Linked DNA regions of Homo sapiens. The protein of the gene in region 2 interacts with the protein of the main gene of each other region in a pairwise test. Each region holds a gene or a part of one and is shown on either strand. Other genes may lie near its edges. The genes, in order: TLCD4, UBE2J1, CDS1, ELOVL4, LAPTM5, GOLT1A and TMEM51.

The links.
Region 1: the proteins of UBE2J1 (region 2) and TLCD4 interact in binary tests that used the Homo sapiens proteins (3 or more experiments, as listed by UniProt).
Region 3: the proteins of UBE2J1 (region 2) and CDS1 interact in binary tests that used the Homo sapiens proteins (3 or more experiments, as listed by UniProt).
Region 4: the proteins of UBE2J1 (region 2) and ELOVL4 interact in binary tests that used the Homo sapiens proteins (3 or more experiments, as listed by UniProt).
Region 5: the proteins of UBE2J1 (region 2) and LAPTM5 interact in binary tests that used the Homo sapiens proteins (3 or more experiments, as listed by UniProt).
Region 6: the proteins of UBE2J1 (region 2) and GOLT1A interact in binary tests that used the Homo sapiens proteins (3 or more experiments, as listed by UniProt).
Region 7: the proteins of UBE2J1 (region 2) and TMEM51 interact in binary tests that used the Homo sapiens proteins (3 or more experiments, as listed by UniProt).

The regions. Positions count from the first base shown.
Region 1 is NC_000001.11:95,190,355-95,193,854, forward strand, and holds part of TLCD4 (TLC domain-containing protein 4), read left to right. Parts: intron 1-1,195; coding exon 1,196-1,514; 3' UTR 1,515-3,500.
Region 2 is NC_000006.12:89,335,723-89,339,222, reverse strand, and holds part of UBE2J1 (ubiquitin-conjugating enzyme E2 J1), read left to right. Parts: intron 1-679; coding exon 680-764; intron 765-912; coding exon 913-1,018; intron 1,019-3,500. UniProt on the Homo sapiens protein: Catalyzes the covalent attachment of ubiquitin to other proteins. Functions in the selective degradation of misfolded membrane proteins from the endoplasmic reticulum (ERAD) and is essential for cells to recover from ER stress.
Region 3 is NC_000004.12:84,642,127-84,645,626, forward strand, and holds part of CDS1 (phosphatidate cytidylyltransferase 1), read left to right. Parts: intron 1-897; coding exon 898-1,017; intron 1,018-3,095; coding exon 3,096-3,199; intron 3,200-3,500. UniProt on the Homo sapiens protein: Catalyzes the conversion of phosphatidic acid (PA) to CDP-diacylglycerol (CDP-DAG), an essential intermediate in the synthesis of phosphatidylglycerol, cardiolipin and phosphatidylinositol.
Region 4 is NC_000006.12:79,923,554-79,927,053, reverse strand, and holds part of ELOVL4 (very long chain fatty acid elongase 4), read left to right. Parts: intron 1-672; coding exon 673-860; intron 861-2,021; coding exon 2,022-2,102; intron 2,103-3,500. UniProt on the Homo sapiens protein: Catalyzes the first and rate-limiting reaction of the four reactions that constitute the long-chain fatty acids elongation cycle.
Region 5 is NC_000001.11:30,740,775-30,744,274, forward strand, and holds part of LAPTM5 (lysosomal-associated transmembrane protein 5), read right to left. Parts: exon of another isoform or gene 3,016-3,500; intron 1,776-3,015; coding exon 1,682-1,775; intron 943-1,681; coding exon 866-942; intron 1-865. UniProt on the Homo sapiens protein: May have a special functional role during embryogenesis and in adult hematopoietic cells.
Region 6 is NC_000001.11:204,200,826-204,203,988, forward strand, and holds part of GOLT1A (vesicle transport protein GOT1A), read right to left. Parts: intron 2,163-3,163; coding exon 2,071-2,162; intron 987-2,070; coding exon 808-986; intron 1-807. UniProt on the Homo sapiens protein: May be involved in fusion of ER-derived transport vesicles with the Golgi complex.
Region 7 is NC_000001.11:15,160,247-15,163,746, forward strand, and holds part of TMEM51 (transmembrane protein 51), read left to right. Parts: intron 1-3,500.

The DNA.
Region 1 (3,500 bases), on a different chromosome or scaffold from region 2:
GAATCTTGCTCTGTCGCCCAGGCTGGAGTGTGGTGGTGTGATCTCGGCTCATTGCAACCTCTGCCTCCTGGGTTCAAGCAATTCTCTGCCTCAGCCTCTGAGTAGCTGGGATTACAGGTGCCCGCCGCCATGCCTGGCTAATTTTTGTATTTTTAGTAGAGACGGGGTTTCACTATCTTGGCCAGGCTGGTCTTGAACTCCTGACCTGATGATCCACGCTCCTCAGCCTCCCAAAGTGCTGGGATTACAGGGGTGAGCCACTGCGCCTGGCTGGCCAGGCTGGTTTCAAACCCCTGACCTCAGGTGATCCACCTGCCTCAGCCTCCCAAAGTGCTGGGATTACAGGCGTGAGCCACTGCAATTTGCACTTCCTAATGACAATAGTGAACATCTTTTTATATGCTTAGTTTTCATCTATATATATTTTCTGATGAGGTTTTTGTTATGCTCTTTTACCAGTGTTTTAATTGGGTTGTTTTCTTATTGTTGACTTTTAAGAATTCTTTGTGTACTTTGTATACATGTACTTTACCATACATGTATATTTTAAATATTTTTTCCTAGTGTGTGGTTGTCTTTTCTTTAACAGTGTCTTTCGCAGAGCAAGTTTTAATTTTAACGAAGTCCAACTTAACTAACTTTTTCTTCCATGGATGACACTTTTGGTGTTGTATCTAAAATAGCACCACCAGATGCAAGATCATACAGGTTTTTTTCCTTTTTTCTTATGGAAGTTTTATAGTTTTGCATTTTACATTTAGGTCTATGATCCATTTTGAGTTAATTTTTGTGTAAGGTGTGAGATCTCTGCTTAACTTCATTTTTCTCGATGTTGATATACAATTTTGCACACCTTGTTGAAAAGACTTTTTTTCTCCACTGAATTACCTTTATGCTTTTGTCACAAATCAGTTGAGTATATTTGTGTGGGTCTATTTCTGAGCTCTCTTTTCTCTTCCATTGGTTTATTGATCTTTCACTAACACCATGCTGACTTGATTACTGTCGCTTTATAGTTAAGTCTTGGAAATGGGTAGTGTGAGTCCTCCAACTTTGTTCTTTTTCAGCATTGCGTATGCTATTCTAGGCCCTTTGCTCCTCCTTCACTGAATTTTAAAATTTAAAAACTAAAATAAAAATGGTTAATCCTCAGAGATGCACTATAAATGTGATGTTTCTTTAATTCATTTTTCAGGTGGTTCTTTGAAGCTCTGAAGTATCCCAAGTTTTCTAAAGCTATCGTTATCAATGGAATACTCATGACAGTAGTATTCTTCATCGTGCGGATTGCCTCAATGCTTCCTCATTATGGCTTCATGTATTCCGTGTATGGAACAGAACCCTACATAAGGCTTGGAGTTTTAATCCAGTTATCCTGGGTCATTAGTTGTGTTGTTTTGGATGTGATGAATGTCATGTGGATGATCAAAATTTCAAAAGGTTGCATCAAAGTCATCTCTCACATCAGACAAGAGAAAGCCAAAAATAGTCTTCAGAATGGAAAACTTGATTAAAAGAGTGCTACCGATAAGCAAACTTCATTACTACCCAGCATATCTGCTGATAGGATGAATTCTTGGCATGTTCTTGTGTACCTTTCTTAATTATAATTGTTATTCAGGATTTCAGTGTCATTTTTTTTAAACCTTAGAAAAGAGAAGGCCGGGCACGGTGGCTCATGCCTGTAATCCCAGCACTTTGGGAGGCCAAGGTGGGTCGATCACTGAGGTCAGGAGTTCGAGACTAGCTTGGCCAACATGGTGAAACCTCATCTCTACTAAAAATACAAAAAAAAGTAGCTGGGCGTGGTGGTTGGCGCCTGTAATCCCAGCTACTCGGGAGGCTGAGGCAGGAGAATCGCTTGAACCCGAGAGACGGAGGTTGCAGTGAGCTGATATTGTGCCACTGCACTCCAGCCTGGGCGACAGAGCAAGACTCTGTCTCAAAAAAAAAAAAAAGAGAGAAACTAAAATTAAAATTTAGTTTTCATCCCAAGATGTCTTTTCTGCCTTTCTTTTGCCTTATTTACAAGCATGGATAAAAATCTTAAAGGTTTAAATAAAAATGATCAATATAATGGTGAATCTTTTGAGAAATCTCTTAACTGCATTGGTATTTTTTCTCTGTGAAAGATGACTATGATAATCTGGTACAAATGGTTTTATGTCACCAATTTTGCTGCAAGAATGGGAACTGCTTTTAAATCTGTAAATAGCTCTTAACATTTGTTGTATGCACTCTTTTCTTACTATGGCTGTCAACACTTGTGTAGGGTTTAATTTCTAAATTGTTGGCATGTTCTTTTTCTCAGGCTATTCAGAAGTAACAACATTTTTCATTTCAGACATGCAATCACCTATTAATGATGAAATATTTTACCACTTTGGGAATATTTAATTAGTTTAGTCATGGAGAATACTTCCCACATTTTAAGATTTTTTCAAATATCACTGTCATTTCTATTTTAGCATTTTATCAAATTATTGCTTTTTTATTTTATAATAAGGCTTAAGACAGATTATAGACCTCCTTAAGAGATGAGTTTCTTCTTCTAAAAATGCATGTTGATAGAGGACTATTTAGGCTAATCGGAGGAATCATTAAGAAAGAAAGTTTTAACACTGTTTATCCCTATCTGCTTTCCTTGCACTTTTTCTGTGAAAAATATTTTCTGTTTGCAAAATCTTCCCTGAGTTCTGAACCCAGCACCATCAGTACCAAAGTCTTATGCAATATGTATTTATTATGCTCCTGAAATAGGCCTCTTCTTGATGAGACCCAAACTATTACAAAAATATCAGTATTCATATTTTACTCACAATTCATACCCGTGCTTACTTAGTTGGCATTTTAGTGCTTTGAATTTCTATCTTAAAGCACAGAAAAAAAAAGGTAATTTAATCCAAGTATTCTATCATCAAAATTATTGTCTGATTATATGAAGATAAATGACTGGCGACTCTGGTTGTGTGTGTATGTGTTTTGCTTTTACTTTAATTCTTGCAATCCAAATATAGAATTATATATTTATCTATTATTGCCTTTATTCTTTAAGCACTTGAGTTTAATGATTATTCTTACCTGAGAAAGGAAGAAATTTAATTCTACCAGTGATGAATACTTGAAATTAATTGAACTCATACCAAAAGATGTAATCCAGTTTCTCAGTTTGAAGGAGAACGTTTGACTCACTTTCATTGTTCATGCTAGCTGAATATAATCAAGACTTTTGATTTGATTTGCTTTTATTATTCAATGCAGATAGAGCCTGATAAGTTTTAGAACATTTAAAGAAGATTGAAATCTCAGTCAGTAACTAAATGATAAAATGAGATTGATTGGCTTATACTAGGTACATTTATTTTTGAAAGAATTAATGTAAAATAATAGTTATTTTTAAAGCAGCTAATATTACACTGATAATTTGTTGCTAAATTTAGTGCTGTCCACATCATAGGTGCTTAAATATGTACTGGTTAACTAGAGGGGGGTAGGAAAGC
Region 2 (3,500 bases):
GAACTCCTGGCCTCAAGTGATCCTCCTGCCTCAGTCTCCCAGAGTGCTAGGATTACAGGCGTGAGCCACTTCGCTGGCCAGTAAAACTTTACATGTTAATTATTTAGATTTCACTTGTGCAACTCAGTTTCAAAAGGTGCTGTAAAACACCTTCTAAAAACAGCTTTTATTATTCAGCATCCAACAAGTATTTTTGGAGTCTATAAGGACAAAAAATCTGTGTCCCATGAGAGGTTACATTTAAAAAAAAATCTTTTTGGCCGGGCGCGGTGGCTCATGCCTGTAATCCCAGCACTTTGGGAGGCCAAGGTGGGCAGATCACAAGGTCAGGATATCGAGACCATCCTGGCTAACACGGTGAAACCCCGTCTCTACTAAAAATACAAAACATTAGCCAGGCCTGGTGGCAGGCGCCTGTAGTTCCAGCTACTTGGGAGGCTGAGGCAGGAGAATGGCGTGAACCCGGGAGGTGGATCTTGCAGTGAGCTGATATCACACCACTGCACTCCAGCCTGGGTGACAGAGCGAGACTCCATCTCAAAAAAAAAAAAAAAAAAAAAAAAAACAAACTTTTTAAGATAATCTCTAAAATTATTATATATAAATAGTATATTTTTACAGAAAGTATAAACATTAAGCACATGTATTTAATTTTCTAAATGCATTGTTTATTCCTCAGGCTAATGGTCGATTTGAAGTGGGCAAGAAAATCTGTTTGAGCATCTCAGGCCATCATCCTGAAACTTGGCAGCCTTCGTGGAGTAGTAAGTGTTAATTTATAGTGAATATAAATCTCATAACTTCAGTCAATTCATAGTTATGAAGTATAATACTCTGATTTTTTCTTTTTCCAGAATAAACCCAGTTGCTTTTACAAAGCAATTTAGATTGATATTTACTTTTTTATTTCAGTAAGGACAGCATTATTAGCCATCATTGGGTTTATGCCAACAAAAGGAGAGGGAGCCATAGGTTCTCTAGATTACACTCCTGAGGAAAGAAGAGCACTTGCCAAAAAGTAAGTTTTGCATTTCATTCTTCTTGAGGTCTGAATAGTATTCAGGGTAATGGCTATTAGGAGGTAGGGCCTACCTCTTACTATGTGACTTATTTTCTGAGTGACTGTAGCTACAGGATCTTATCTCAGTTTTGCTCTTTTAGGAATTCAGTTGTAATAATTTCCTTGGAGTGACCAGAATCTAAGTAATTTATTTAATGCTATCTAGTCTTAAAAAGTAGTTGATACTATTTCACTATTTTTAAAAAATTCAGTGGGAGATATATTCTCCTGGAAAACAATACCAGTCATTTGTTTCCACTATGGCATTATAGATGGAAAAGAACCAGAGCAATTATTTGTAGCTTTCCACAAGATTACAAACCTCTTGAGGGCCAAGAGGTAATCCACTTTATCCATCTTTGCATCTAGCTCATAGCAAGTGCTTAATAAATGATCTGGAATAAAGCAAAAGAGATTTTATCAAGTTGTGATTGCCCAGTGGCAATCACAAACAGAGAAGTGATGCCTTCTCTGTTTTTTTCAGGTGCAGGTGCACTTTTGTCTATATGACCAAGATCAGTCCTTCCATTCAGAGTAGCCCCTCTTTGAGTAGTGCTGATACCTAATTTTTGATGTTGATAATTTTTCTGCTCTGGAGTCTGCTGCCTACCACCCTTCAGACATATTATGTTAATTAAATTATATCATATTTTACCCTAGCACACCCCAGAGTAGGCCCTCTACAGATATTTGCTAAATCAGTTAGATTTTAGCATCTGGAAGATTTGGTAGACTTCTTGGTCTTATAAGCAACTTTTCTTTTTAAACCTTATTTCCAAACTATGGGTATGTACTTTATTTATACAGCTCTTCATAGATTACACTATGTACTTTGAATACATAGTATTTGTTTTCATTCGATTTACTACGTTGGTTTTTTTATCTTGATGCCTTTATCCAGTTGATTTCATGTGCGAGGTAAAAAAAAAAAAAAAAGAACTGGAGTTCTTGTTCTTCTAGGCTTCTCACTGTATATTCTAGATTCTCAGTCTATAATAGAAACCTTTTAAAAAATGATTTTGGGCCGGGCATGGTGGCTCACACTTGTAATCCCAGCTCTTTGGCAGGCCAAGACAGGTGGATTGCTTGAGTTCAGGAGTTCGAGACCAGCCTGGGTAAAATGGCGAAACTGCAGCTCTACAAAAAAATACAAAAATTAGCTGGGCGTGGTGGCACGTGCCTGTAGTCTCAGCTACTTAGAGACTGAGGTGGAAGGATTGCTTGACCTGGGGAGGTTGAGACTGCAGTGAGCCATGATTGTGCCACTGCACTCAAGCCTGTGGGACAGAGTTGAGACCTTGTCTCAAAAAAAAAAAACAAAGATTTTTGCATTCAACCGTGGTAGCATGCTACCATTGTGGATAAACTAATACATTCAAAATAAACACTCCCCTTAAGGTTCATCTGACTCAGTTAAAAGTGAATACATTTTGAAGCAAATAATTTGTATATAACCAATTCTCAAAGGTGTGTGGTCAACAGTGCCACTTCTGGTAAAACAAGAAATACTCATCAATAAATACTAAATTAGGCTGGGCACAGTGGCTCATGCTTGTAATCCCAGGACTTTGGGAAGCTGAGGCAGGAGGATCGCTTGAGCCTAGGAGTTCTGGACCAATCTGGATAACACAGGGAGACACTGTCTCTACAAAAAAAAAAATAATAATAAAATGAAATAAAAAAAAAAAATAAAATAAAATAAAAATTAGCGGGGTGTGGTGGCACACACCTGTGGTCCTAGCTACTTGGGAGGCTGAAGTGGGAAGATCACTGGGGTCTGGGAGGTTGAGGCTGCAGCAAGCCATGATTGCACCACTGCATTCCAGCCTGGGTGATAGAACGAGGAGACCCTGTCTCAAACAAACAAACAAACAAACAGAAAAACTAAATTATTGCTACTTTTACATATATTTTGTTTATATGATATTTCATAATTTTAAATAGCATGTTCTTCAAGACCTAAGGTTTTTTAATAGAACTAGAAGTACTATGAAAAACAATTTTTTAGAAGGAAGTTTAACAGTGTAACAATATATGTTTTATATATGATGCATGTTTACTTTCAGTCATTCATATCCTCAGAGGACTCTTGTAAACTTCAAGGAAGTTTTGACTATATCTGGAATACAAAGGGAAAAATGGAAAAACAAATATATTTTAGAAAATAATCTAGTTAACAGACATATCCTGAGTCTCTACCTAATGTATAATCAGCAATAAATTAAGTCTTTGGATTTTCTGCAAGTTCTCCCAAGTCTTTCAAGTTATACTGCTATTTGTGAGGGGTTTTTTTTTCCCTAGAAATATCTGTAAATTCTATGTTTAATTAGTTTCTTTACTGCTTTATATATATTTCTGCTAACAGATAATTTGATCTTGTTAAAGGACTTTTTTCACAGCCTTAAAATAGGTTTGTTATATGTGATCTCAAGGACAGTAT
Region 3 (3,500 bases), on a different chromosome or scaffold from region 2:
AGACCAGCCTGACCAAAAGGTGAAACCCATGTCTACTAAACATAAAAAATTAGCCAGTCGTGGTGGCATACACCTGTAATTCCAGCTACTTTGGGAAGCTGAGGCAGGAGAATCACTTGAACCTGGGAGGCGGAGGTTGCGGTGAGCCGAGATTGCACCATTGCACTCTAGCCTGGGCAACAAGAGTGAAACTCTGCCTCAAAAAAAAAAAAAAAAAATTGGTGCCTCAGACATCTTTCTTCAACCAAAATGGGTGCATTTTGCACTGTCTATAAATTGTAGTTTCAGATTATTTAAAAAGGAGCAAGAACTACAAATTTGCAAAATAATTTGACTACAAAATTCTTCTCAGCCTTTATGATTGTCTCCCCAAATCTTTAGTGATTGTCTCACTGATGCTCATTTTGATAATAATCTTTAAGCAACTTATTTTTGTGTTTTTCCACAGCATTCATCTTAATTTTAGAGAAAAGTCCAACTTTTCCCTTATTTTATCATATAAAATTAAGGTGAAATAAAATACAATATTAAATTATATAATTACAGCAACAAAGCATTACTAGTTTAAAAAAATTTGGAAAATAACACAGCTGATTCTTTGTAAGAAGTAAAGTTCCTAGACAACCTGGAAGGTAGACTACCACGCTGCAAGATTTCAGTGTGCCAGTTGCCTGTCATTATTCTTACAGAGAGAAGGGAAATTGCTGGCTAAGTAGAGGATGGTACAGAAGGCTTAAATAGACTTTTCTTCCTTGATCCTTAAAGTTTGAAAAATTAACAAAAATGTGGTGCGTGCTTTGACTTACTATTTACACAATGGTTCTTAGATCAGGTGGTATGCTCAAATACAATTTCAGTGAAATTAGCCCCTCTCCTCCCCTTCTTTCTCCTCTTTAGGAAAGAGTGAGCTTGTACCCTTTCCAGATCCACAGCATTGCACTGTCAACCTTTGCATCTTTAATTGGCCCATTTGGAGGCTTCTTTGCTAGTGGATTCAAAAGAGCCTTCAAAATCAAGGTGTGTGTTTAGATTCTTTGTTATATTATTAGAGAATATAATTAGAGAATGTAACCTAGTTGGAATTTGGTCCGCTCATGATCTACATTAAGCCCCTAGGCCACAACTTTTATATCCTATTTGTTTCGACCCCACAGAAATGCTGCCACGTTGATCTGAATGTATTCTTTCTTTTTAGGTTTGTCATACCATGTTAATACATTTTAAGTGTCATGTCAGCTTCCTTTATAGACATGGCATGTGTCCTTTAGTGTTGGAATAGACCCAGAATCTTGGTCTTTCAAGTGCTCACCCAAGAATCCAGCCGTGAATCATCTAAAGTTTAGTGTTTTACTACAGTCTCACTTGAAGGGACATGCAGAAGAACCTTTGGCTATGTAACTGTCCATTCTGCTAAGTCAGGTGTCATCACACTCTTTCTGTAAAGGGCAAACAATACATTTATTAGGATGTGCAGACCATATATTCTATCAAAGCTTCTCAACCCTGAACCCTGCTGTTACAGTGAGAAAGCCCCCCGTGGACAATATGTCAATGAATGGGCATGGCTGGATTTAATAAAACTTTATTTATAAAAATAGGTTGTGGCCTGGATCTGATCTGTGGGACATACTTTTCTGACCCCTGTTCCAGAGACCTAAAATTATCCCTGTGTATTAGGTTAGATCATCATAAAGTGACATGTTATCTCAGCAATTTCATCTCAGCTTCCCTCACATGGCTGAGGCACCATCTGGGGTTAGAAAGTGGCTATGGAAGTTGGGGTGGTCAGGGAAAGCCTTTCTGAGGAGGTGGCACTTAAGTAGAGATTTGAGAAAAGAACTCCTCCAGAGAAAACTAAGAAGAGAGTTCCAGAGTGTACAGAGGAGTGGAAGAGGTTAATTAGCCTGTTAGAAGGTGAGCAAGAACAGTGTGGCTGTGGTTGAGAGTAGGAGATGAGACCGCAGAGTTTGGTGGGACCAGATCACACGCGGCCTACGGGGTCAGGGAATAAGTGAACTCAGCGAGCATTTGCCAGTGGGAAGCTACTATGTAAGGTGCAATGCAGTATACAAAAATATACAAGATGTTGTTCCTGTTCTAAAGATGCTCACCACCTACTAGGGCAGACAATACACTTCCCCAGAGAACTACAGCAACAGCTGTGCAGGATAAGTATCTTGCGAAGGCTGTAATAGCAGAGTGGCATTGAGTTACTGTGGCTCTTTTATGCTTTGACTAGTAAGGAAGAGAAAGAGAGAAATGGGTTGGCAAAAATTAACCAAAGACTTTTTCAGTAATTATTTTAAAAAGAAAAATGTTATATTTAGAATGGTATTTTCTTTAATGGTCTCCAATCCAAGATTTTTTGTTAAATGGTGAGTTTTTTTTGCATGTTGGAAACCAAACAGCTATTGCTGTTGTAGTTTAGATATTTTTAGGGTGCCTGAGTGAACTAGAAGAGCAGTTAGTCATGTCCATTTCCTGGGCACCCAGACATGTGAATCTACCTGTAAAGGGTCAGTTTGCAGAGGCTTACTACCATTCCCTCAGTGTGGCCATTTAATGGACTAATGTGTCCCATATGGGCTCACTGTAATTTTATTTTTTACTCTAACACTTAAAAAAAGAAGAAGAAATGTTTATCATAGTAGTAAAATGTTTATTTCAGAGTAAGAACTATTAGGATAAACAAGTTAGAACCAGTTGTACATCTTTTAGCAGCACTAAAATAGCTCCCCAAACAGCTTGTGGTTAAAAAGAAAGCTAGGCTGTAACAAAATTAGATTAGTAATAGCTAAGATAATTTTTATTTAGAAAAAGTTTTATTAACGAAAAAAAGTAAGTGCTAGATTTAATTAACGTTTGATGAATGAATGCTGTGGGTCAATTCAGAAATCATTCTAAAAGAAGCATGTATTTGGAAGATGTGGTTTTAATCTGCTGGATGTGTTCTAATAAGTTTTTATTTAGTGAAAAAAATCCAATAGTAATGTATTTTCGTTAGAGTGAGTCCATGACGCCAAAGAGACACAGATAGGAATTTTATAGCAGGTGATTTTTTGAAAATTTGCTAATATATTTGTTTGTTTCTAAAGGATTTTGCAAATACCATTCCTGGACATGGTGGGATAATGGACAGATTTGATTGTCAGTATTTGATGGCAACTTTTGTACATGTGTACATCACAAGTTTTATAAGGTACTTTTACACTTGAGACATTTTTTAGATGATTTCTTTGAGTTCTCATTTCCATCAACATTAGTTTGAGTAAGTTAACTTTTTCCGTCAATGGTAATCTACAATATTAAAGTGAATGGTGGCCCCTGGAATTAGAGTCTTGAGCAAGATGGTTAACTTGTAATTGTTTTACCTACATTTGAACAACTTAAAAAAAGATAGTATTTGTCATGGTCCTGGACCACATTGAAGACCCAATTAATGTGGATGGTATAGGATTTGAAACTTGAGGAGATTTGATTTCTCAACTGTGGGCATTGCA
Region 4 (3,500 bases), 9.4 Mb from region 2:
GTTATGCGATTTACAGCTCTAGAGAAAAACATTCAAGTTAGTTATTCATGGGAATAAAATAGGTGCATGTTCTCAATGAAAAAGTTAGAAAAATGTCTTGAATATGGTGACTGTTTACATTATAGAATTGTAATTAACCCTAACTTAATCTCTCAGTGCCCCTGTACTCTTGTCTTCAGTGTCTCGAGATATTTCAGCAAATGGCTACCATCGCCCCGTACGTACCTCTCCAGTTACATTCTTGCCTGCTTTAGGAGTGGACACACAGAGCAGCCTCCAAGCTGCCCTGATAAATTTCACGTGTATAATATGGAAGACAAATGTTTCCTTAACATATTTATTTTCTGTGTATGAAGTTTTTCATTAACTTTTCATCCCAAGATAACCACCTCTGTTTTTAGTGCGCTTTATTTCTTGTTTTTGTTCTGTAGGGTCTCTGTAAAACATAATGTGTGACATAAGTAATGAAGCATAATTTTCAAAAGCCACTTGCAGGAGTCAGTATTGTTTCTTTGGTTTTTATACCATGTATTTTTTGTTGGGACTCAAAGGACAGTGATCCGTATTTAGTCAAATTAGGAAATTAAGTTGAAACATCTTGATTCCTAAAAAGTGTATTTTATAAAACATTTACTGATTAATGAATTTTATGGTATTTTGTTCTCTCTATAGATAAGCGTGTGGAAAATTGGCCTCTGATGCAGTCTCCTTGGCCTACACTAAGTATAAGCACTCTTTATCTCCTGTTTGTGTGGCTGGGTCCAAAATGGATGAAGGACCGAGAACCTTTTCAGATGCGTCTAGTGCTCATTATCTATAATTTTGGGATGGTTTTGCTTAACCTCTTTATCTTCAGAGAGGTATGTTTTTAAGATCACTTTAATAATTTTCCAAGGTTATTGGAAATTTAAAAATGAGAATGTGTAAAACCATCATTGTAATATTTTACCCAGACATAACTGTTAGCTACTCTAAAAGTACATTTTTGACATTTTTCACTTTTGAATAACAAAAATATTAAACATGAGGTATAGGAAAGTTGTTTAAAGTGGAATTTTGAATAAGACCAACTGGATTCTAAAGTAACCCTTATTAGCTGTTCTGGCATTGAAAGTTATTTAACTTTTCTTAGCCTCGTTTTCCCCACTTAAATACCTACCATCTCAGGTTATTATCGGAGTAAAGTAAGATAATTTTTGCATAGTGTTTGGCACGTATTAAGCACTCAGTAAACAGTAGCAGCTATTTATTTATAATTCTTATTCAGTAGTTTCTGGTTTGGTAACTGATCAAAATATGCCAATTTCAAGTAAATCCTATTACATAATGTTGTATTTTGGGCTGGAATTAAAATGAATTAACTGCCATATAGCTGTTGTTACTAATCATTATATACTTTTCTGGGCACTAGCAAATTCTCCACAACATTTTCAAAGGAAATCCTAAAGGCTAGATTGACACAGCCATTTTTTAAATTGCATATGTATAAAGAATTTGTTTCCTAAGAGACTCATTAAAATTCTGTATGAAGCCAGAGAACTGACTAGTAATGCTAGGAAAATAAACAATAACTCTTCTTAGAAAAAGAAATATTTCTTTACTTGAAAACTTAGCCTCGAGTCTCAACTTCATGAACACTTTAATTTATTTGGATACCTGTACCTAATTTGTTAGATGCAAACCACTCTGGATCAAACATAGAAACCAGTTAAGGTAGGACAACTTTGAAATCTGAGTCCTAGCAATAAAAATTTCTCTTAATACTGTGAAGTATTTAATAGATAGAGTCAATGTTCAGTATAAAATTTACATGTGATTTTTAATTTAGATTTTAATTATAGAACAAATTAATGCACAGTAACTTCTAGCAATCGGAATGCATGAAATTTTTAATGCATTTGAAATTTTTAAAGAAAATATTGTGTTTAAAATAATTTGAAAGGCTACATTTTGTATATAATTGTGTTTTTAATGCTGTGTTTACTAAAACTTTACTACAAATATTATTACTCTTTTTCCAGTTATTCATGGGATCATATAATGCGGGATATAGCTATATTTGCCAGAGTGTGGATTATTCTAATAATGTTCATGAAGTCAGGGTAAGTACATTAAAAATACTCTTAATCAGTAAAAGTGGTTTGATTTTTATAGGCCCCAGTCTGTGAAAATATAGAATGTACTTTTTTTTAAGAGACAGTTTCTTTAACATTCATTTAGAGACAGTTTCTTGCTCTGTCCCCCAGACTGAAGTGCAGTGGTATGATCATAGCTCACTGCAGCCTCAAACTCCTGGGCTCAATTGATCCTTCTGCCTCAGCCTCCCAAGTAGCTGGGACTACGGGTGTACCCCACCATGCCTAGATATTTTTTTACTTTTTGTAGAGACAGGGTCTTGCTATGTTGCCCAGTCTGGTCTTGAACTCCCAGCCGCAAGGGATCCTCTTGCCTCAGCCTCCCAAAGTGCTGAGATTACAGGTGTGAGCCACCACACCTGGCAAAATGTACTTTAATATGATAGTGAAATTATACTAGATTGTTATGAGTCAGTAAAACTATGCTTTTTTAAAAAGTACTTAATTTAAAATTTGTTTTTGTATCTCAAAAATGTTTTTTATTTTGCAGCATGAGTGAATATGCATTGAATTACTAGAATGCAGTACTTGTTAAAGCAAAGAAGTCTCATGTTTATTTTAAAGACATTATTTTAGATTTTTGTTTGTTTGTTTTTGCTCAAGAGTAGAAACTCTTAGAGTCCAAGTTATGTGTTAAGAAAGTGAGGAAAAGTAAATGTTTTGTGAAGTGTGGAATATTTAGGAAATTAGGCATAGAACAATTTGTATTGGCATAAACTCAGTTTTTTTATATTTGCAGAAAAATAAAACACTAGTAACAAGATGTTATATTTTATTTTCCATTCACTTACATGAGTAAAATTAACATTAAGCAAAAGAAACAACAGATTACCTTATTCTATTACGTATTTATTGAACTCTTCTTATATACTGTGGTTCATACTAGAAATTACATATAAAACATAACATGTTTTATGTTACCTATAGTATATGTAGTAATAATATCTAGTGGCTTCCCTTGAGAAAAATAGTTTCCTGGCATGGGGAGTGGACAATATATAAATATCAGTATTCATCAAGACTGGAGACAAAATTGGTTTAATGTACTTAACAATTTTATGTACGTATCTTCATTTCCCTATTAGAAGACTTATGGACTGATGAAAAATCACCTGTCTTGGTTGTCATGTTGGTTTTATTTATTCATTAAATATGTATTGAGCATCTACTATATGTTGGTACTGGGGACAGGGGTGAAAAGCCCTGCCTTTGTGGGGCTGGCATTTTAGTGAGGGTGAGAAGGCAGACAGCAGCCATGTAAACAAATGACTAAGGAGGAAATAAAACCTAGAAGGTGACTGAGAGAAAATGAGAGACTACTCAGATGTATTGGCTATGAAAAATTTTCTTCTGATAACTATTGCC
Region 5 (3,500 bases), on a different chromosome or scaffold from region 2:
CCCCAGGCAGCATGGGTTCCAAGACAGAGTGAGTGTTAGCAAGGGGAGTGGGTGCTGGCATTTGAGGCAGGGTGGACGCATTCCAAACCAGCACCAAATCATCGCCCCACTCCTCCGGCCCTGCAAGGGCCAGGCCCCTGTCTGCACAGGAAGGACCCTCTTTCTGGATCCTACTCCCATGGCTATGTGGTGAGGCCCTGGCTTCCTGCCTTTCTGGGGACCCAGGGACCGCGGGTTCCTCTTCTGCAGGGGATTGAGCTACAGCCCATCTCAACTCTCCCACCAGATTTGCCTCGGGCCCAGGAGCCCCTCGTTGTCACACTAGACTGTCCCTGTCTCTCTGAAGGCCCATCTTCCCCAATCAGATCATGAGCTCTCTGGGGGCCTTCCAGGGCGTAGGTCCCCCTCAGGGTGCTGGCTCCTGTCACTGCATGGATAGAGCTGCATGCATCCTACTTTCCCCCTTCTTCGGCTCCTCTCATCCATTACAAAATCCAGTGCTTTCTCCCGTCTCTCACCCCCAGAAACAACACTTCCTCTTTTCACTCTCAAAATTCCCTGCTTCCACCTGCCGTTTAAAAGGATGTGAGTCATCAGCTAGTTCTCACCAAAGTGTCGGTGACCAGCATAGCCCACCATGCCCGGCCCCGTGGAGGCTCATGTTACCAGGGAACTGAGGTCACCTGCCCAGGGAATCTCAGGGAGAAACATGGTTCTCCAAAAGGTATGTGTGAAGATCTCCAGAACGCAGGTGGGACCGCCTAACATACCCGCCTCCCACCCTCTCAGCACCCAGCACTGCCCACCACCAGTGGGTGTGAATAACAGGAAGGGGCAGGGGGCAGCGGGGCTCCTGAGCCCTCACCTTGACTACGCCGATCAGTAGGCTCAGGCTGATGATGAAGAGCATGGTGATGAGCAGGAAGCTGGAGATCAGGTCAGCTGAAAGGCAAGGAGAGCAGGGAGGTGCTCAGGGGTGCCCCTGGGACCCCAGCCAGGCTCCCAGGACCACACTTGGGGAACCACTGGTTTGGGGACATGAGGATGCACAGGAAAGCCCAGGCCCTGCCCTCTTGCAGTCCTGAGTCTGGAGTGAGTACAAAGACAAAAGCAGAACATCACACATAGCACAGGAGGATGCGACAGAGGGTGCTGGGCTGGAGGTGCAGGCTGGGGTCCACTTCAGCCAGGGTGAGGCTGAGGAAGGCATCCCTGGGGAGTGGCCTGAGAGCAATGAGGAATCGGCCTGAGACAGGGACAGGGTTGGTGAGGTCAGTGTGGCTGGAGCAAGGTGTGGGGTGGAGAATCGCAGGGAGATGCTGTCAGAGAGGTGGGCAGAGGCTGGATCCTATGGTGAGGAGTTTCCATTTTATTCTAGTGTGATGAGCAGCCACTGACGGCTTTAAGCAGAAGAGTGAGGCTATCACCTTTACCAGCTGGTGGGGATTTGCAAAGTGCCATTCCATCTGCTCTCACCACCTGCAGATGTGGGTGGGGTCAGGTGGAACATCCCCATTTGCGGATGAAACAGCTGAGGCCCCAAGAAAGGAAGACACTTGCCAGAGGTCATCCATCGTCCATGGAGAGGTGGCAGTGCCTCCAACACTAGCCTGGCTATCCCTGGCCAGGGCCCTCCCTGTCCTCCTCCCCCCGCCACTCCACCGGCGTCCCCTGGACCTACCGATCCTGAGGTAGCCCATCTGGGAGAGCTTGCAGGACGCCTTGCCATGGGCCACCTCTACTGAGTGCTCGATGAACAACAAGACGCTCATGATCTGGAGGCAAAGCAAAGCATCAGTCAGCTGAGCCTGCATCACGGCCCCCCGACCAGCCCCTCCCACCTTAGTGGTGTACAGCAGGGAAGCCAGTAGTGGGGATCCTGGAGCAGATGGCATGCCAGGTCAGTAGGGCATCTCAGACAAAAGAGTGGCCTTTACACACAGAGAGCCCATGTTCAGAATCCTGGGTCTTCCTCTCTCCAGCTATGTGACCCTGGGCAAGCTACTTGACTTCTATGTGCCTCGGTTTTCCCATCTGCAAGATGGGGATAATACTAGTAACTTCCTTAGGAGGCTACTGTGAGGAGTAAATGAGACTATCCCAGGAGAGCCCTTAGGCCCAGTTCTCAGGAAGAGTGGTAACTGTTACTACTGAAGGTCAGGCTTAAAGAGGTGGGGTGGGGGGTAGAAGCTGAAGGCCCCTCCACTGCATCCCCTTCTGTAACAACAAGCTCTGGGGATCAGAGAGCACCATAGAGCTTCAGGTTCCCGGAATCATCAACACAGGCCCAGGAGGGCCCTGGAGAGCATCTAACCCTGAATCTCTGTCTCCCATGGCCCCTCAGGGAACAATAACATCTTCCTCATAGGATTGTGGTGGGGCCAGATGGGATAATTCACTTAAAGTACCTGGCAGATAGTAAGCACTCAATCTGTGCTGTTATCCATTATCCCCATTCGACTGTAGGTTCCAGGCAGGGAAAGCCTGTATGTCTCTTTGTTCATTCCCCTAGCTGTTGTATTTGTTGAATGAATGAATGAATGAATGAATGAACAAATGAACCCCACACTCTCAGATGACCCTTGCTAAGAATGATGTGGAAGGGGCGAATCTGATAGGCCTGAGTGTTGGGGTGGCCCTAGAAACAACTGAAGTTCAGCCACAAAACTGCAGTTTTAAAGAACCTTGGAGGTCACCTTATCCATGCCTCCCATAAACCTGTGCCATGCAGCCTCTACTTAAGTGCTTCCAGCCATGGGGAACTCACAACCTTATGTGTGTCCATGTCCTCACAGCAAGCCCTCCACCCTTCCCCTATGACATACATACAGTTCTCCAGGTAACCTCTGCCCATATAAAGAACAAGAAAACTGTCCCCTCCCCTCTAGTCGGTGCCCTATCTCTATTAATATGGCCCTAAGTTTACATCGGCTTTCTAGGCAGCCCTGCACTGGTAACTCATGCTCAGCTGACAGGCAACCAGCCACCCACCATCTGTTTCCCCCTTGCTGACTGTGTGGGTTTTTTTTTTTTTTTTTTTTTTAGCTCAGACACAGGTCTCAACTTGTCTTCCTGCCACATTACATCCTGTTTAGGGGCGTGGAAAGGGACTGAACGGAAGAGTGATGAAGAGCTGGGCTCCAGAATCAGATCAAGAGGATTTTGAATCCAGGTCACTGTGTGACCTTGGGCAAGTCTCTTAACCTCTCTGAGTTTCCTCATCTGGAAAATTGCAATCACTGGATTTAGTGAAGATTAAATTGCATTATATTTGCAAAGCACTGAGCTCAGGGACTGGCAGGGGGTGCCCAGCAAACAGAATCTGCTTTTGGCTGGGGCAAGCTTACGTGGTTCGGCAGTAGTACCAGGAGCACGGTGCATGCTCTAACTGCCCCCTCTACCTGCTAAAGAGTGAGCTGGAAAGGCTTTGTCTCATCAGGAAAGTTGAGAACACCCCAAAAAGAAGGCAGGTGTGGTGAGGGCTGTGGCTGACACTCACA
Region 6 (3,163 bases), on a different chromosome or scaffold from region 2:
ATCATTCTTCCAGGGTCCATTGTCCCAATCCCACCCCTATTCTCTCCACACCACCGTGTAGACATATGAAGTCTTCCTTCCCACCCCCACTTTCTCTGAGACTCCTTCCTTCCTTTTCCTTCAGTGCCCTCCAGTCTTCTCTTAGACCCTACCCATCCCTCAAGGCTTCTCTCAAGTCCTGCTTCCTCTATGACACTACCCTGGGCTCCCCTCTAAGTGCCTACAGGCCTGACAGTGGCCACACATCATGGCTGAGTTCCACCCTGCCTTTTCCCAGGCCCAGGGCTGACACAGGCCTGGCCAGGGGATGACACAGGGGTCAGGAGCCAGAGCTCCCTGGGTTAAGGGCGACCTTTTTCACATACTAGTTTGAGACTTTGGGCCGGGGGCAACTTCTCTGAGTGTTGGTTTCCTTATCTATGAAGTAGAGGATAATCCTATAGTGGGTTGTTGTGATAAAATAAGATGATGATCATGAGTGTGCCTGGAACATGTTAGCTCACTGCCCTTCCTCTCCGGCTGGATCACTGAGATTTGAGGGCAGGCCTCGTGTCTCTTCCCTGCTCACAGGCACAGTGCTGGGGGCACAGTGCTGGGAACACAGTCGGCACTCTATCAGTATTTGTTGATGGATGGGCTAATCCCTCCAAAGTACCCTTCAGCCTACTTTAGGGGGCCTTTCCAAGGTGTCCATGGTTCTCATCTCTTGCAGGATAAAGTCCCAGCTTCTGCACTCCCTGCTGGGGTGATCTCAGCCACTCAGACACTTTGGTGGGTCTGTCCAGGGTTATAGGGATTTGCACTCACTTAAAGAGGCTGAAGAATCCGTAGGTTTCCAGGAACATGCCGAGGAGGGGCCAGCGTAGGAGCACGATAACCACACCCCCCAGGAGGAAGCTGGTTCCCTTGAGTTTGTGCCGTTGGAAGAAGAACCAAAAGGTCTTCCTCAGGCCAATGATGAGGGACAGGCCCGTCAGGAACAGCAGCTGTAGGGGAGGGAGGGGAGCATGAAGCAAACCCACCAGCCCCCTGAGGAGTGAGGGACTTAGGCCTGGAGCCAGGCGGTGGGCTGGGACAGGATGTGCTAACTGTTCAAGACCATCTGAGCGAGGGCCATCCAGCAGTGTGGCAGAATCCCAGAGCCTTGATAAGTCTTGCTGGCTGGGAACAGGACTGCGCAGAGGCAGGGGGATGGATGAGAAACCTTTGACGGTTTCTAGTTGCCTACCCAATTCCCTGGAGCCCAAGCATTTTTCATATGGGACTTGGTTTCTCACCATACCATCTGGGGAAGATGGAATCGGGAGGGATTTTTATTCCAAAGAAGTGAAGATTGAGGCCTAAGTAGGTTAGGCAGCCATACTGAAAGTCACACAGAACCTTCAGAGGCTCCACTGCCTACAGAATAACCCTCCAGTCCCTCCCCTGGATGCCCTATCACCGTCTTCAGCTTGGCTCCTAATGAATCCCTTAAGAGTGCCCAGGCTCTCATCAAATTGAACTCTCTGGTTTTCTTCCAGCATATCCCATGCTTCCCTGCTCCTTCCCCACACCTTTTCTCCTGCTGTTCCAATCCCCCTGGAAGTGCTTTATTCACCTCCACACCCATTTCCTTTCCAAATTCCTCTCCACCATTCTCCAATTCAGTGTGCCCTCTTTCCACTAAGCCCCTTGTTTCATACTAAATGTGTTTACCATGGCCCCTGCCTTCCTCCCAGCCATGTATGTCATGTTATATCTCTAGCCCTAGAGTGGGATTCAGATGGCAGGGACAGTGTCTGAGTCCTCTTAGAACCCCCAGGGTCTCGCCCAGAGCTCGGTGTGAGAATCCAGGTCCTCAGATTCTTGGTGCCAGCGGGCTCTGCGTCCATTTCCTGTGCCCTCCTCTGCCCAGGCTTGATGATGTCTGACCCCTGGATAGGCATGGTCTGAATAAACTTGGGATTTACTTAAGGGATTTATTTAAAGACTTAAATAAACTGTAAGTCTTTATTGCCAGGACTATCCTGGCAATAGAGACTTCAGAAAGGTTGGGGCAGGGGAGTGGGGACACAGGGCTGGGAGACTCACGTTTCCAAAGGCCAGGAGCACGGAATCAAAGTACAGGAGTGTTCCAAAGAGGATGAAGAAGATGCCGAAACCGGTGATCCCCACACCAATCTCTGCAATGGGCAAGGAGGTGGTGGAGGAAAGGGCTTTGGGGAGCAGGTGGGGACCCTGAAACTTCCCCCATTGCCACAGGACAGGTGCCCTCTATGGGGGTGACTCCACTTCCATCCAGGAATCTCAGCTTTCATGCTCTCAGGGGATGGTGGGATGGGAAGGGGAAGGTAGGATGGCATGAAGCTTTGTCTGGCACCTGGGAACTGTGCTGTCACTTCTGTACACAGTGGCATGCTGTCCTCACTGCAGCCCTGTGTGGAAGCTGGTGCTGCCCTGACCACTTTATACTCTCAGCCTCCTCTTGTCCTCAAAAGCCACATTATCCACATCAGTATCAAGGCTGAACATAGCATCTGCTGCCTCTGCTCCTGCCTTGTGCAACTGAGAACCACTGGAGCCCAGCCCACACTGCGCAGAAGGGAGCCACTGAAAACTCAGGACCACCAGCTCCAAAGAGCCTCAGAACCACCCAGCTCTCCTGGTCCTTACTCAAGAGGCTGGCCCGCCTGAGCAACTCTCCACACTGCCTCCTTCCTCCTCAGAATTGCCCTGTCTCCACTCTCAGGTGGTGACATTTCCCACTGGATTGGGAAAACAGAAGTCATCAGTTAGGAATGCATTCCTCTTCTCAGCTGGGACCTATATCCAAGACCCAAGCCTGCACCTGCTCCCATTGTCCTCCCTCCCTCCTGCAGCAGGCACCTTGCGGGCCCCCCACACACTCTTCGGCCAACTCTCATTTCAGCCCAGTGGCTTTGGGCAGTTCTGCCGAGGTTGGACCCACACTGACAATGAGCCCCCATTCCCAAGGTTTGACAGTGAGCCCCCATTCCCAAGGTTTGACAGTAAGCCCCCATTCCCAAGGTTTGTAAGTGTCTCAGGGCATTCTTTGAAGCTGCAGGAGTTCACTCAGAGCCAGCAAGCGTAGCCTAGAAGTGCAGGACATGAAGGCCCCCTCGTTTGGTCAAGGGCTACATTTTTGACATTTTGATAAACATAT
Region 7 (3,500 bases), on a different chromosome or scaffold from region 2:
TTTGGTGAGGGAAAATGACTTTATTTTATTTTATTTATTTCTTTTGAGACAGAGTGTCACTCTGTTGCCCAGGCTGGAGTGCAGTGGTGCAATCTTGGCTCACTGCAACCTCTGCCTCCTGGATTCAAGCAATTCTCTTGCCTCAGCCTCCTGAGTAGCTGGGATTACAGGTGCATGCCACCACGCCCGGCCAATTTTTGTATTTTTAATAGAGATAGGGTTTCACCATGTTGGCCAAGCTGGTCTTGAACTCCTGACCTCAAGTGATCCACCTGCCTCAGCCTCTCAAAGTGCTAGGATTACAGGCGTGAGCCACCACACCCAGCAAGAACATGATTTTAAAAAACAAAACAAACACTCAAACTTTCTTAAGTTACCATAAGAGGCCTCACATACAGCTTCCTTAAAACTGCCTGCAATTTGGAGAGAAGCAGTTAGGTACTGGAACTGCCTGTGGGTAATTATTGTTTTCAAACAGTGACAGATGCAAATTCTCTTCTTTTGGGGGAAATTGCCTGTAGCTAAACACCGGCGCCATCACTTTAAACAAATCTCCTGATACATATGGTATGCCAGGCGCTGAGCCCAGGAACGAGGGAGAGTCAGCCCCCGCCCCCCACCCCGATGGAGCTGATCCCCCACGGGAGGCAGCAGGGATTGTACCTTAACAACATGTGAATAAAGATGAGGAAGCACAGCCCGTGAAGGAGGAGGCTTAACCCAAACTTGGAGAGTCAGGAAGGATTTTCAGAAAGAGTGCAGTCTGAGCTGAAATGGGGAGCGGGGAGGGCAGGTGCAGCCGCCACCGCCAAAGGTCTTCCTGGTGGAGGCAACTGCCTGTGCAAAGGCCTCAAGGTGTAAAAGAGCTTCGTTAACACAGGCCAATACTGAGTGTAGAAACGCTGCACTCAGGGCAGATGCTGAAGGCAGAGGTGGAAAAAGTATTTTATATAGTTTCTTCTTAAAAGTCATTTTGGGGGCTGGGCATGGTGGCTCATACCTGTAATCCCAGCACTTTGGGAGGCCAAAGCAGGTGGATTGCTTGAGGTCAGGAGTTCACGACTAGCCTGGCCAACATGGTGAAACCCCATCTCTACTAAAAATAGAAAAATTACCCGGTATGGTGGCAGGTGCCTGTAATCCCAGCTACTCAGGAGGCTGACCACAGGAATCGCTTGAACCTGGAAAGCAGAGGTTGCAGTGAGCCGAGATCGTGCCACTGAACTCCAGCCTGGGCAACAGAGTGAGACTCATCTCAAAAAAACAAAAGTCATTTTTCTCAAAAAATTAAAATCGAATAACCATAGGATCCAGCAGTTTCACTTCTGGGTGCATACTTGTCTTAGTCCATTTGTGTTGCTGTAAAGAAATACCTGAGATTGGGTAATTTATAAAGAAAAGAGATTTATTGGCCGGGCGCAGTGGCTCACGCCGGTAATCCCAGCACTTTGGGAAACCGAGGCAGGCAGATCACGAGATCGAGACCATCCTGGCCAACATGGTGAAACCCAGTCTTTACTAAAAATACAAAAATTAGCCAGGCATGGTGGCGGGCACCTGTAGTCCCAGCTACTCAGGAGGCTGAGGCAGAAGAATGGCTTGAACCCGGGAGGCGGAGGTTGCAGTGAGCCGAGATGGAGCCACTGCACTCCAGCCTAGCGACAGAGCAAGACTCCATCTCAAAAAAAGAGAGAAAGAGGTTTATTTAGCCCATGGCATCTCAGATGCATCAGCATCTGCTTCTAGTGAGGGCCTCGGGCAGAAGGACAGCAGGCGTCATGTGGTGAGAGAGAAGAGGAGAGAAGGAGTGGGGAGCAGACTCTTTAACAACCAGATCTTTGGGCACCAAGCCATTCAAGAGGGATCCACTCCCAACAACCAAACACCCACTAGGCCCCACCTCCAACATTGGGGATCAAATTTCTCTTCTTTTTTTGAGACAGTCTTACTCTGTTGCCCAGACTGGAGTGCAGTGGCACAATCTTGGCTCACTGCAAACTCTGCCTCCTGGGTTCATGCGATTCTCATGCCTCAGCTTCCCAAGTAGCTGGGATTACAGGCATGTGCCACCATGTCCAGCTAATTTTTGTATTTTTAGTAGAGATGGGGTTTCACCATGTTGGCCAAGCTGGTCTTGAACTCCTGGCCTCGAGTGATCCACATGCCTCGGCCTCCCAAATTGCTGGGATTACAGGCATGGCCACCGCATCCAGCCTGGGGATCAAATTTCAACATGAGATTTGGAGAGGACCAATATCCAAACTATATCAATGCTCAAAAGAATTGAAAACAGGTTTTTGAAGAGATATTTGTACACCCATGTTTATATGAGCATTACTCATAATAGCTAAAATATGAAAACAACCCAAGTATCCATCAAAGGATGAATGAATAAACAAAATGTGGTCTATCCATACAGTGGAATATTATTCAGCCTCCATGTGGAAGGAAATTCTGACACCATGCTGCAACATGGACGAACCTTGAGGACATCATGCTAAGTGAAATAAGCCAGTCACAAAAAGACAGATACTATATGATTCTACTTGTATGAGGAATCTAGACATCATAGAAATGGAAAGTAGAATGTTGGTTGCCAGGGGCTGGGGGAAGAGGAATGGGGAGTTAGGGTTTAATGGGTAAGGGGTTTCAGTTTTGTAAAATGAAAGCGTTCTGTGAATGCATGATGGTGATGGTTGCACAGCAGTATGAATGTACTTAATGCCACTGAACTGTTCATGGAAAAATGGTTAAGATAGTCAACTTTATGTTATGTGCATTTTATCACACTAAAAAGTTGGTGGGTGGGGGAGTCATTTTGGAAACAAGACTCAGATAGTCATTTGGCCATATCATTGCGTTCTCTCTACAGACCAGGTGTTCTTCCAGGCTTTGGGGGGAAACGGTGCCTAAGACAGGCTCAGTTCCTGCCCTCTTGGAGCTTACACCTTATTAGGCAGCAGGGAGGAGTCAGTCAAGTAGGAAACCAACAAGTAAAATAACAAATCAATAACATGTCAAATGCACTGATCTGAAATCTTTGCCCCTTCCCTATGCTGGCAGGATCAAGCCAAAGCTAAGCTCTTTAACTTTCAACACTATAAAGCCCGGACTTCTTAGAGTCAGCCTCTGTTAATCTTTTCAGACCTATTACTGCTGCCTTACCCCAACTTCAACTGCATCAGTCACAAGGAACTACTTTCCACCCCCACCTACCTCGTACCCCTGCTCAAAGCCAGGAACTTTGGCGGCTTTTTTCCTTCCTGTTCTTTCTGCTTTTCTTTCTAGACTGCCCAGAGGCTTTAGAAAACACCATAATTTCAATTCTAGAAGTTTATCCTAAGAAAACAGTTAATGAGTATAAGGAGTTAGTTTCGAGACTGTTATTTTTTGTAATAATAGCAACAAAATTAGAAAGCCATTTTGTTTTTAATCTGTCCAGAGATGGTCCTAGCCACGACCCTTTAAATAAATTTTTGTTTAATTTTGGAATAATTTTA